Linked DNA regions of Homo sapiens. The protein of the gene in region 1 interacts with the protein of each later gene in a pairwise test. Each region holds a gene or a part of one and is shown on either strand. Other genes may lie near its edges.

Region 1 (4,065 bases):
CCAGGTGTGCCGGGAGCAGTTTGTCCGCTTGCACAGCGAGCCCATCCTGCAGGACCTGTCCAGATTCCTGGTCAAGCGGTTCTGCTCTGAGTAAGGCGCTCCCTGACCCCAACTACCTGGATTCCCCCCCCACCCCAAAACCTGGCCTCAGCCTCACCCCACCCTGCTTCCAACCCCAGGCCCCAGAAGATCTTGGAGGCCAGCCAGCTGAAGGAGACACTGCAGGCGGTGCCCAAGCCAGGTAGGCGGGTGGGCAGCCTCGCAAGGGTGGCTCGAACTGCGGGCCAGGGCGGGGCTTTCCCGCCACCCACGCCGTCCGCTCTGCTTCCTCCGCAGGGGCCTTCGACCTGGAGCAGGTGAAGCGTTCCACCTACTTCTTCAGCTGACACCCCGTGAGCCTTGTCAGTGTGTAAATAAAGCTCTTTTGCCACCCCCAGGAGCCACTGTCTTCAGGAAGGGTGCACGCCCTGCGGGTCTCGGGCAATCACACGCGGCCAGGCTTGGCGCCAATGCTGTCGTTTATTGCGCGGAATGGGGGTGTGGGGGTTAATGGGGCGTGGGGGGCCACGGTGGGGGCACTGCTGCCTCGGCTCGTCAGTACATTCATCACGGCGGCGGGACCCCAGCCTCCCCCCCGCGCCCTGCGCAGCCAGGCCTGCCTCTCGGTGCCAGTGCTGGAGGGAGGCGGGGTGCTGCTCCCCGAGGTCACCGGGGGACGCGCGCGGACGGGGGCCGGGCCGGTTATTGCGTGAGCGCGATGGGGGCAGCGGGAAGCCGGCGGGCCAAGTATTGCACTTAGAAAACGATCCTCCTCGGACGGGGGCCACCTAGAGGGTGGGGGGCGGGCGGGGCTCCACAGCCGGCTCCTCTCAGCCACTGGGCCGCCCCGTCCCTGTCTTACAGCTGGGGGAACTGAGGCACCGAGGTGAAGGGAGCCCCCTCGCACGCGAGGCCGCCGCCGGGGGCAGGGGCGATGGGGGTGGGCGCGGGGCGATGAGGGGGGACGGCCGGGGGCGCGGAGGGGGCTGCCCCGCCGGCCCTGCCCGTCCGTCCAACTACGGCTACCTACGTCTCGTCTATGGCTTCTGGGCGGACTGGCGGCCGGGGCAGCGCAATGGCATGGCTTTGGTCTGGATGACGGCCCCGCCCCCGGCCCGCCTGGGCCCGCGGGGCGGTCGGCGAGGGTCACAAGTTGGACGAGAGGCGCGAGCGCGCGGAGTCCTGGGGGTCCAGGCCGCCGGCGGCGCCGGGTGAGGCCGAGTCCCTGCGGTCCGGGCTGGGCGCGGCGGCCCGGGCAGCGGGCGTGGGCCCCAAGCGCGGTGTGGAGCTGCTGGCCGGGCGTGTGGAGGCCGCGGGGCCGGGGGCGCCGTGAGGCAGCGAGGGCTGCGAGGCGGACAGTGGGCGCGACGCGCGGCTCAGGCGGCGCGCGGGCAGGGCGGGCCCAGCAAGGGGGGCGGCGGGCAGGCCGCCGTAGGGCGAGGTCCGCGGTGCCCGGGGGCTGGCGGGCGCGCCCGGGGGGCTGGCGGGGGGCGGGGGCCCGGGTGAGGCGGCGGCAGGTGCGGGCCCCGGGGGCGGGCGGCGCACGAGGCGCGGCGAGCCGAGCGCCAGCGGCCCCACGAGCGGCCGCGCCACCTGCGGGCAGAAGCTCATGGCCGCCGCCTGCTGCAGCGTGGCGATGGCCGAGGTGACCTGCGGCGGCGGCGGCGGCGGCGGGAAGAGGCCCACGCGCTGACCCAGCTCGGCCTGCTGCACCATCTCGCGGTCGTACTTGACGATCTCCTGGATGATGGCGTTCTCCTGGTTGTTGAATACGCCCGAGTTGAGGTCATGCTGCACCTTGTGCAGGAGGATGGAATTCTTCTTGCCTGCGGGAGAGGGGGCGTTAGCGTGTGCACAGGGAGCGCCTGCTGCGTACAGCGGGCACCGAGCACCTACTCTGCACCGCGGGTGCGCACACAGTGCTTGCCGTGTAGAGCAAGCATGCATTTACCACCTACTGTATACAATAAGCACATATGTAGCATCTCTGGCCTATAGTATGGATATTGAGTACCTGCCATATACAGGCTGAGCACCTGCTATGCACAGCCAGCATGCATGAAGCACCTGCATACAGAAAGCAGGGCTTTTGTTTTGCTTTGTTTCTGAGACGGAGTCTTGCTCTGTCGCCCGGGCTGGAGTGCAGTGGCGCGATCTCGGCCCACTGCAAGGTCCACCTCCCGGGTTCACACCATTCTCCTGCCTCATCCTCCCGAGTAGCTGGGACTACAGGCGCCCGCCACCACACCCGGCTAATTTTTTGTATTTTTTTTTTAGTAGAGACGGGGTTTCACCATGTTAGCCAGGATGGTCTCAATCTCCTGACCTCGTGATCCACCCACCTTGGCCTCCGAAAGTGCTGGGACTACAGGCGTGAGCCACCGCGCCTGGCAGTAAACAGGTATTTAATGCCTGCTGTGTACATGGAGCAGGTATCACTGTGCACCAAGTATGCATGTGTACCACCTGTATACGCTGATTATGTAATGACTGCCTCCAGTGTGCCACAGGCATACCGAAAACACCTGCCTGTACACAGCCTGTGCTGAGCACCTGCTGTATACAGAAGTTATAACCTAAGCACCTGATACTCAGGAACGGGTTGCATACTCACTGTATAGAGCAAGTTGTGGAGAGCTTCCTACTGTACACCAGGGAGCTCCCTGACACCACTCCGTCGCACCTGTCCTGCGTTTCAGCCATGGTCTTCATTCCCATTCCCACGAACAGCAGCATGAGCCGCCATCTCTCTGGCGCCTACATCCAGTCATCAGGGCTCTGCCCCTCCCTGCCCCAGAGACTGCCCCCCTGAGAGGCCAGGTCACCGTCTCCCTCCTGGACACGGCCCGCCTTGGCGGATACAATCTGACCAGGTCCTCCGCCCACCTAGAACCCTCCATGGCTCCCTGATGCTCCTGATTTAGTCTAAACTCTCCCTGCCGCCCACTGGGCCCTGTGTGTCTGGCCTCCCCTTCTTCCCCAACCTCCTCCAGGCCTCCCTGGCTCTCTGGACTCTAGGCCTCTTTTCCACCTCAGGGCCTTGGGATGTGCTGTGTCCACTCCACGAACACATCTTCCTCCCCGTTTCCACATGGCATCCCTTACCCTGGTCTCCACTCTGCATTCCCAACTCAGGGAAGCCCACCGGCCCCACCTGCCCTGCTGGCACACAGCCCAGTCGTGTGTGATTTCATCACCAGTCCATAAGCCTCCCTGGGAGTCTGAGTGGGCCCCCGGGTCTGTCCCCTGCACCCCCAGCACACAGCAGGTGCTCACCGAGCATTCGGCACAACCGCAAACACCCTGTGCATTCCCTCCCTTGGGAAACAGGCTGCCTCTGGCTGAAGTAGGACAATAGGTCAGAAAATCAGCCTCTAGACCCAAAGGGGTCCTAGGAGCGGCCAGCCGCTGCCCCTGCCCCAGCCACGCCCCTGCTGCCATGGCCACACTCCTGATGCCTTGGCCACGTCTCTGCCCCAACCGTGCCCCTGATGCCACAGCCACGCCCTTCCCCCTGCCACTGTCCAAGCCACTCTCCTGATGCCTTGGCCACGCCCCTCCCCCGCCAGGGCACCCGCCCCGGCCACGCCCCCGGCCCGCTCACCGATGCGGTCCAGGCGGTCGATGGCCACCGTCTCGAAGGCGCGCCGCATCATGGGGTACTCCTCCAGCACCTCGTTGAAGTTGTCCACGCTCAGCGAATAGAGGCGGCAGTAGGTGTCAGCCCGCACGCTCGCCGTGCGGCGGCCCCGGGTGAGCAGGCAGATCTCTGCACGTGGCGCGCAGGGGGGGGTTGCTGGACGAGGCGGGCGCCGCGGCCCTCCCCGCCCAGGCACACGGCCCGGCCTCTGCACCTTGGCCAGCGTGGGCGCTTCCCACCCAGGCTCTCCCTGGTGCCGGCCCCGGCCCCATCCCCGGCCCCATCCCCGGCCCCATCCCCGGCCCCATCCCCATCCCCGGCCCCATCCCCATCCCCATCCCCGGCCCCATCCCCATCCCCATCCCCATCCCCGGCCCCATCCCCAT
Region 2 (8,177 bases), on another chromosome or scaffold:
GGGACTCCAACTGTACTTCTGTTAGTCCTTTTTCCTGTATCTCTCATACTTTCTTGGGTGTATCCTATTATTTTGTTCTGTGCTTCACTGTAGATATTTTCTGCTGACTAGATTTCTAATTCACTAATCCTCTCTTCAGCTTTGCCTATGCTGCTGGTAAATCCATCCACTAAATTGATACATTTAAAAAATAGATTTCTGCGGAGATTCTATTTATTCTTGGGCTGACTCTGGAAATTTATATTTTTCTGGCAAATTATATATTTCATCCAAAACTTCAAATTGTATTTCCAGAGTGACTTTTTATTTAGTTGATTCTATTTTTATTTGTTTTCTCTTTTGTTCCTTTCTGTTTTTGTTCTAAAGTTTCATTTATTCTACATTTTTAGTTTATTTTTTGGTTCTTTTGCTTTTTGAGTTTAATGAGTTCCTATTATTTTCCTTTTATTTATTTTTATTTTTTAGAGACAGGGTTTCACTCTATCACCCAGACTGGAGTGCAGTGGCACCATAATAGCTCAGTCTAACCTAGAACTCCTGGGCTCAAGCCTCTTCCCACCTCAGCCTCCTGAGTAGCTAGGGCTACAGCTATGCACCACCATTCCCAGATAATTTTAAACAATTTCTTTTTTATAGAGATAGAGTCTCAGTGTCTCACTATGTCACCCAAGCTGTTCTCAAACTCCTGGCCTCAAGTGATCCTCCTGCCTCAGCCTCCCAAAGCAGTGGGATTACAGGTATAAGCCACCATGCCCAGCCTCTTTTCCTTTTAGTGAATTCATTTACTGTATAAATTTGCCTCTAAGGTTCACATTGTCTGCATCCCAGAAGTTTTCAAATATATGGCAGTTCCTTTGTAATTTAATATCTTATTATTTATGTGTTTTCCTCTTTATCCATATGTTACGTGATGATATACTTATTTTTTGGTTTTCAGATATATCAAGGTGTACAGACTATATTTTTGCTGATTTATAATTCAACTGCATTGTAGTAATGGAACCCAGTCTACATAAAGCTGATATTTAAAAATTTGGTTGGACTTCTTTTGTGACCCAGCACATGGTGAGTTTTTAAAACCGTTTTATGGACACTTATAAAGAATGCACATCATTTGTTGGTTAGGTGTGGGTTCTCTCCATCTATTTTATAAAGGTAATTAATTCTATTACTCAATTCTATATGTTTACTTTTTAAAAAAATCTATCAGTTTCTGAAACCTAATTCCTACCATTGTGCATGCCTCAATTTCTTGTAAATCTGCCTGTTTCACTTTGAATATTTTGAGTCCATATACAAGCCCATGATTTTACTATCTTCTTCGCAGGTTGTTTCTTTTATCAAATTGTAGTGACATTTAATATCCTATGGATCACCTGAAATTTCAGTTTTTCTTAGATGTCTGCATTTTAGCCTTAGCTTGATATGTTTTTTCATCACCTTATTTTCAACTTTTTATTTGTTTTTATTTTAGATGTGCATCTTTATTTTGTATTTTATTTTTTGAGACAGAGTCTTGCTGTTTCACCCAGGCTGGAGTGTAGCAGCGTGATCTTGGCTCACTGCAACCTCTGCCTCCCAGGTTCAAGTGATTCTTATGCCTCAGCCTCCCAAGTAGCTGGGATTACAGGCATATGCCACCATGCCTGGCTGATTTTTATATTTTTAGTAGAGATGAGGTTTCGCCATGTTGGCCAGGGTGGTCTCGAACTCTTGGGTTCAAGTGATCCGCCCGTCTCGCCCTCCCGAAGTGCTGGGATTACAGGTGTGAGCCACCAGCCCCAGCCTAGATGTTTATCTTTTAAGAAGCATATAGCTAGATTTTATTTTGTTATTCAGTTTAATAATACTTCTTTTAATAGGTACTTATTTTAAAGGATATTGTGATTATAGATATATTCAGATATTATCTTAGTCATTGGGGCAGTTATAGTAAAAATTATAAACTGGATGACTTATAAATAACAAAAAGTTATTGCTCATAGTTTGGAGGCTGGCAGGTCCAAGACCAAGGCACTGGCAGATGCGGTGTCTGGTGAGGTCTCCCTCTTTGATTCATAGACCGTGCCTTCTAGCTGCGACCTCACATGGTGGAAAGGGGAAGGCAACCTCCCTGTAGCCTCTTTTAAAAGGGCATTAATCGCATTCACGGGGTCTCCATCCTCTTGGCCTAACCACCTCCCAAAAGCCCTACCTTTTAGTAATATCACATGGGGAGTTAGAATTTCACTATATGAATTTTGGGGGGACACAAACATTTATGCCACAGCAGATATCTTTCTACCACCTTATTTGGTGATTTCTGGGTTTTGTTTGTTTGTTTAAGACAGAGTCTCGCTCTGTCGGCCAGGCTGGAGTGCAGTGGCACCATCTCGGCTCAATGCAACCTTCGCCTCCCCGGTTCAAGCGATTCTCCTGCCTCAGCCTCCCAAGTAGCTGGGATTACGGACGTGTGCCACCACGCCTGGCTAATTTTTGTATTTTTAGTAGAGACTGGGTTTCACCATTTTGGCCAGGCTGGTCCCGAACTGCTGAGTTCAGGTGATCCACCCGCCTCGGCCTCCCAAAGTTCTGGGATTACAGGCGTGAGCCACCATGTCCGGCTGGTGATTTCTGTTTAAAAGTTTTTTCTTAAAGTGTTTTTTCCCACCTAGTTTTTCATTGAATGGGTAAAACATTCTACATTTGCTTTTATTAAAACAAGAAATGAATTTTGCTGCATTTCAATTTATAGATTTTACTATCCTACCTCGTGCCAGGTTCTGTGCTAAGTGCTGTATATATCTGTGATCACATTTAACTTTTATAACAAGCCAAATGAGCAGGAACTCTTATCTCTATCTTACAGACGAAGAATCCAAAGACCAGGGACAGTAAGTAATTTGCTCACCTGGTTTGCCAGCCTCCATGACACATCGCCGTCCAGTTCTGCCTTTAATTACCAAAGCACAACACGCTGCTTTGATTCCCCTCTCCTCGGCGCCAGAATTCAAGAGTGAAGTTAAACCGCAAGGGCTGAGTTAGAAGATTGGCCTCAGTTCCCTGTTCCCACCAGCAGGTGGCACCGTCTCCTAGCGGAATTCTTACTTGAACGTTTTGCTTCCATTTCTGCAGAGGCATGGTGAACACAGTTACACCACCAAAGTGTTCCTCCTGGCTGAGTTTGCCTATCTTGTTCAGTGAAGACAACCCATGAGGACAAATGGTGTTAATGAGAAGCTTTTGCGGAGTTACAGAGATCCTCGTATTTCTTTAAAATACACCTAATAACGTTAACTCTGCAATAATTTGTAGATCATGTTAAATCTTAGCTATCTTCCTCTTGCCACCCAGTGTGCTTCAAGCCACATGGTTCAGAGCACCATTTAATGTGAAACTCCAATTTTAAAACAAAGTGAACCTTCCTTTTACAAAACCATGAGACAAGTTACAGAGTAATGACCACCCACATGACCTTGAAGTGATTTTGAGTGAGTGAGTGTAACTTCCGTGGCTGCCATTTAAATTGGATTCAAATCCAAATGGCTCCACCTCCATGTCATCAGACCTCTTGTGCCCTGATTCCCTTGGCTAAGTTCACAGTACCTTCCACATCAGGTTGTGGCAATGATTACCTGAGGTTAATACGATAAAAGCACATGGTAAGCACTCCTAAATGATAGCCAATATAAAGACTCAGTTCTCCCAATTCCAAGGGTCCCCACCATGATAGAAAAGGATCTTTTGGTAAATAGAGTATGTTTAGCTCTTGCTAGGTCTTTAAATACTTTGCTGGGGGCCAGGCACCATGGCTCACACCTGTAATCCCACCGCCTTAGGAGACTGAGGCTGGAGGATCCTTTGCGGCCAAGAGTTTGAGACCAGCCTGGGCAACACAGCAAGACCCTATTTCTACAAAAATAAAAATAAAAATTAACCAGGCTTTGTACACACTTGTAGTCCCATTACTTGGGAGGCTGAGGCAGGAGGATCCCTCAAGCCCAAGAGTTCAAAGCTGTAGTGAGCTATGATTGCGCCACTGCACTCCAGCCTGGGTGACAGAGTAAGACTCTGTTTCAAAACAACAACAACAAACAAAAACCTCAAAACCTCTTTGTTGGACTTAACTTCCAGCTCCTCCATGTAGTACCTTAGTACCCTTGCAGCCCGTTTCTCTTTTACAAGACAACAATGTTGTTATAAACTCATTTGGATGTGGTCCCGTGGAGGAGTATTTACCAGAATCTAGCTTATTTAGCGTCTTCAGAACACGGCACTTGCCTGGAATTATACTGACCCCCTCAACCCATACCAACCACCCAGAGATGGCTGTTCTTGGCTCCTCTCCCTGGGGCCCTGTCCTTCCCACATCGTCTTCTTCTTCTTTCTTCTTCTTTCTTCTTCCTTCTTCTTCCTTCTTCTTCCTTCTTCTTCCTTCTTCTTCCTTCTTCCTCTTCCTCTTCCTCTTCTTCTTTCTTCTTTCATTGAGACAGAGTCTCACTCTGTCACCCAGCCTGGAGTGCCGTGGTATGATTTCAGCTCACTGTAACTTCTGCCTTGTGGATTCAAGTGATTCTCCTGCCTCAGCCTCCAGAGTAGCAGGGACTACAGGTGTGTGCCACCACACCTGGCTAATTTTTACATTTTTAAGTAGAGACGGGGTTTCACCATGTTGGCAAGGCTGGTCTTGAACTCCTGATCTCAGGTGATCTGCCCGCCTCAGCCTCCCAAAGTGCTGGGATTACAGGCGTGAGCCACCCCACCCAGCCCTTCCCACGTATTCTGGCAGGGAATGCTGTTGTCCCCCAAGCCTACCCTAAGAGGAAGACTTCTTCTGGGGAAAGATGTTCACTGTACCCAGGCCCTGCCCTGGCTGGAGCTGGCAGGAAGGGTCCCAGAGCAGGAACTTGTGCCACTCTGCCCAAAGCCAGAGTCCCTGAGGCACACACCCCATCAGGCACCAAGGTGAATTCCAACTGCCAGTTAGTATTTAACTTTCCACATACGATTAGATTAAACATGTGGGTTCATAAAAGCATAGGATTGCAGACTGCAGTTGCAAGGGCTTAGATGGTTGTAAGGTGAAGGTGCCCAGCAGGCTGAGGCTTGTGTGCAACCCAGAAGAGAGCTCGCTAACGCCAGCAAGAAGGTTCAGAACAGCCTGGCTTTGGAAAGGAATTTCATCCTGCCCACACACTGCATAGGTAAGTCTTAGCACACATTCTTTATTTTTTGAGGAATTAAGTAACAAAGTTATCTATGTGCCTTTTCCAGAAAATGATAAAAGGAATGATTTTCCTGGTACATGGCCTGGCTCCTCATCCACTCTTCCTTCTTTCCTTCTTGTGTTTTCCTTACTCATTTCTTTGTTAATTGCCTTAGAATGAAAATTTTGAGAGTTTTTAAAATGGAGGATTCATGGTAAACGTAGGTAATCATATTGTTTTCTCTTCTTGATATAAAAATGAAAGACTTTGCTGCCTTTTATAGGCCCAGGTGATGTGAGCGATCTACCATGTTTCAAGAAAAGAAAACTTTGGGGCTGGGCGCGGTGGCTCACGCCTGTAATCCCAGCACTTTGAGAGGCTGAGGCAGGCGGATCACCTGAGGTCAGGAGATCGAGACCAGCCTGGCCAACATAGTGAAACCCCATCTCTACTAAAAATACAAAAAAAATTAGCCTGGCGTGGTGGCTGGCGCCTGTAGTCCCAGCTACTCAGGAAGCTGAGGCAGGAGAACGGCATGAACCCGGGAGGTGGAGCTTGCAGTGAGCCGAGATCACGCCACTGCACTCCAGCCTGGGCGACAGAGTGAGACTCCATCTCAAAAAAAAAAAAAAGAAAGAAAAGAAAACTCTGGACTTTGGGGTCAAATGAGTGTTACTTTCCTAATAGTGTCCTGATTGCTGTTGTCATGAATAACACACATTCATGACAGGAATGGCTGGAATTAGGGGATCATTCTGTAGCCTGGAGACAGGGCACAACTAATGACATGTGTAAGCTCAAATCATGGTCTTGATCTTATGTCTTGTACCCAGTTGAGCCAACTGGTCACAGCAATGAAAACAGTGAGTTATTGGAATGTGTGACCTCTGCTAGGACAGTCAGTGCTGGACACTGGCTTGGGTGATGTGAGTTCTAGTCCAGGCACTGTGGCCAACTTGAGAGGCTTGTGATCTTGGACAGGTGACTTAAGCCCTCTAGGCTATAGTTATTCCACCTATCAGAGAGCAAACCAGCCTAAATGATCTCCAGGGGCCCAGCCTGTGCTAGGACTCAGCAAGAAGCATTCACTGGAAATGTAGGTCCTCCTAGGTTGATACACATGAATTGCCCATATTTGACCATTTCTAACCTATATAAATGGCTATTTCATATAATTCCAGAGAACATAAATGGTAGTTGTCTTAGCATTACTAAAGTAAATGCCTATTATGATATTCTACTTAGGGGTAGGATAAGTATGTATACCAAATATGGTTTGTTTCGATTTGATTTTTGAGACAGGGTCTCACTGTCACTGCTGAGTGCAGTGGTGTGATCATGGCTTACTGCAGCCTTGACCTCCCAGGTTCAAGCTATCCTCCCACCTCAGCCTCCTGAGTAGCTGGGACTATAGGAGTGTGCCATCACATCCAGCTATTTTTTTATGTTTTGTAGAGGTGGTGTCTCGCTATGTTGTCCAGGCTGATCTCGAACTCCTGGGTTCAAGCGATCCTCCCACCTCGGCCTCCCGAAGTGCTGGGATTACAGGTGTGAACCACTGTGCCTGGCCTCCAAATATGGTTGATGTCTATCAGTCAGTTAAACAGTAATTCTGGGAATAAAAAATTGAAATCAACCCACTTATAATTGGAATGTCTTAGCATAATGTCCTTCAACGAAGCTGCTTTCACACACTGTGATTTGTTTTTTTCCTGTGGTCATGGAGCAGGCATGGGCCACTCGGCCACATCTCATGCATCCGTATTCAAAAGCCAAATCCCTTTTGGATCCTGTTTATTTGGCCTGGCCACGGGTGAGCACTTAGACATTTAATCCCTATAGGCCCTTTCATCCCTGTGATTAAGTCTTATCAAAAAGCACCTCCTGACCGGCTTAGCAGTGGGGCCTTTGTTCACATTAGAAGGGTTGAACAAATAATGGGCAGTTGGGGCTGCTTAGCTCTAAAAGGCTGGTGAACGCTGCCATGCCTGCACCTGGAAACAAACCCAAATGACTCCAGTGGAATTCAGCACTGAAGTCCCTCATCTCAAAGACCTTTTGTGGCAGAGACTCTTGGATGGGCCTTAGGGGTCCCAGGAGTCCCCTGAAATTGAATGTAGAGCTTCCTACGTGCATAGGTATACTTTCTTGGGGAAAAATTAAGTCACATCATTTTATTTTACTTTTCGAGGGATCTTTAACACCGCCCCTCCCCCACCCCCAATTCCCACACCCCTTAAGAATAAATTAAGAATCACTGTTCTGGTAGTTTCCAGTTGAATTCCACAGAGGAACTGTCATTCATTCACACCTTCATTCAACAGATTTTTAGTAAAGATTTGCTACGTACCCATCGCTGTGTAGGGTCCCGGGATTCAGAGATGAGTAAAGCAATCCCTGCCTTCCGGGGGCTCAAGCTCTCCTGTCATCGGGACTCAGTTACTGAATCTCACTAAACATCCTGAAGGTAGGAGTTTATAGAGTGGTTTTGAGGATCACATGAATAAGCACACAATACATGGGTAATTCAAAAACGAAAACAAGGCCGGGCACGGTGGCTCACGCCTGTAATCCCAGCACTTTGGGAGGCCAAGGTGGGCGGATCACGAGGTCAGGAGATCGAGACCATCCTGGCTAACATGGTGAAACCCCGTCTGTACTAAAAATACAAAAAATTAGCCGGGCTTCGTGGCGGGTGCCTGTAGACCCAGCTACTCAGGAGGCTGAGGCAGGAGAATGGCGTAAACCCGGGAGGCAGAGCTTGCAGTAAGCCGAGATCGCGCCACTGCACTCCAGCCTGGGCAAAAGAGACTCCATCTCAAAAAAAAAAAAAAAAAAAAAAAAAAAGGAAAAAAACAAAACTAACATGGTCATTTGCAGAAGGGGCAGAAAAAGGGTCTCTGCCTAGACCTGGGGAGGTCAGGGAAAGTACTATGGATTGGTAACAACCGGCTGGGCTTCCTACAAGAGAAAAAGACTATACTCACAGAG

Evidence for each region.
Region 2: the proteins of HCN2 (region 1) and KCNE2 interact in a two-hybrid assay, tested with the Homo sapiens proteins (one study listed by BioGRID).

The regions. Positions count from the first base shown.
Region 1 is NC_000019.10:613,595-617,659, reverse strand, and holds the end of HCN2 (potassium/sodium hyperpolarization-activated cyclic nucleotide-gated channel 2), read right to left. Parts: intron 3,809-4,065; coding exon 3,644-3,808; intron 1,866-3,643; coding exon 1,186-1,865; 3' UTR 501-1,185; downstream 1-500. Other genes in the region: POLRMT (DNA-directed RNA polymerase, mitochondrial isoform 1 precursor), read left to right, coding at 5-90, 180-241, 337-386. UniProt on the Homo sapiens protein: Hyperpolarization-activated ion channel that is permeable to sodium and potassium ions. Displays lower selectivity for K(+) over Na(+) ions. Contributes to the native pacemaker currents in heart (If) and in neurons (Ih).
Region 2 is NC_000021.9:34,358,969-34,367,145, forward strand, and holds the start of KCNE2 (potassium voltage-gated channel subfamily E member 2), read left to right. Parts: upstream 1-5,037; 5' UTR 5,038-5,183; intron 5,184-8,177. UniProt on the Homo sapiens protein: Ancillary protein that functions as a regulatory subunit of the voltage-gated potassium (Kv) channel complex composed of pore-forming and potassium-conducting alpha subunits and of regulatory beta subunits.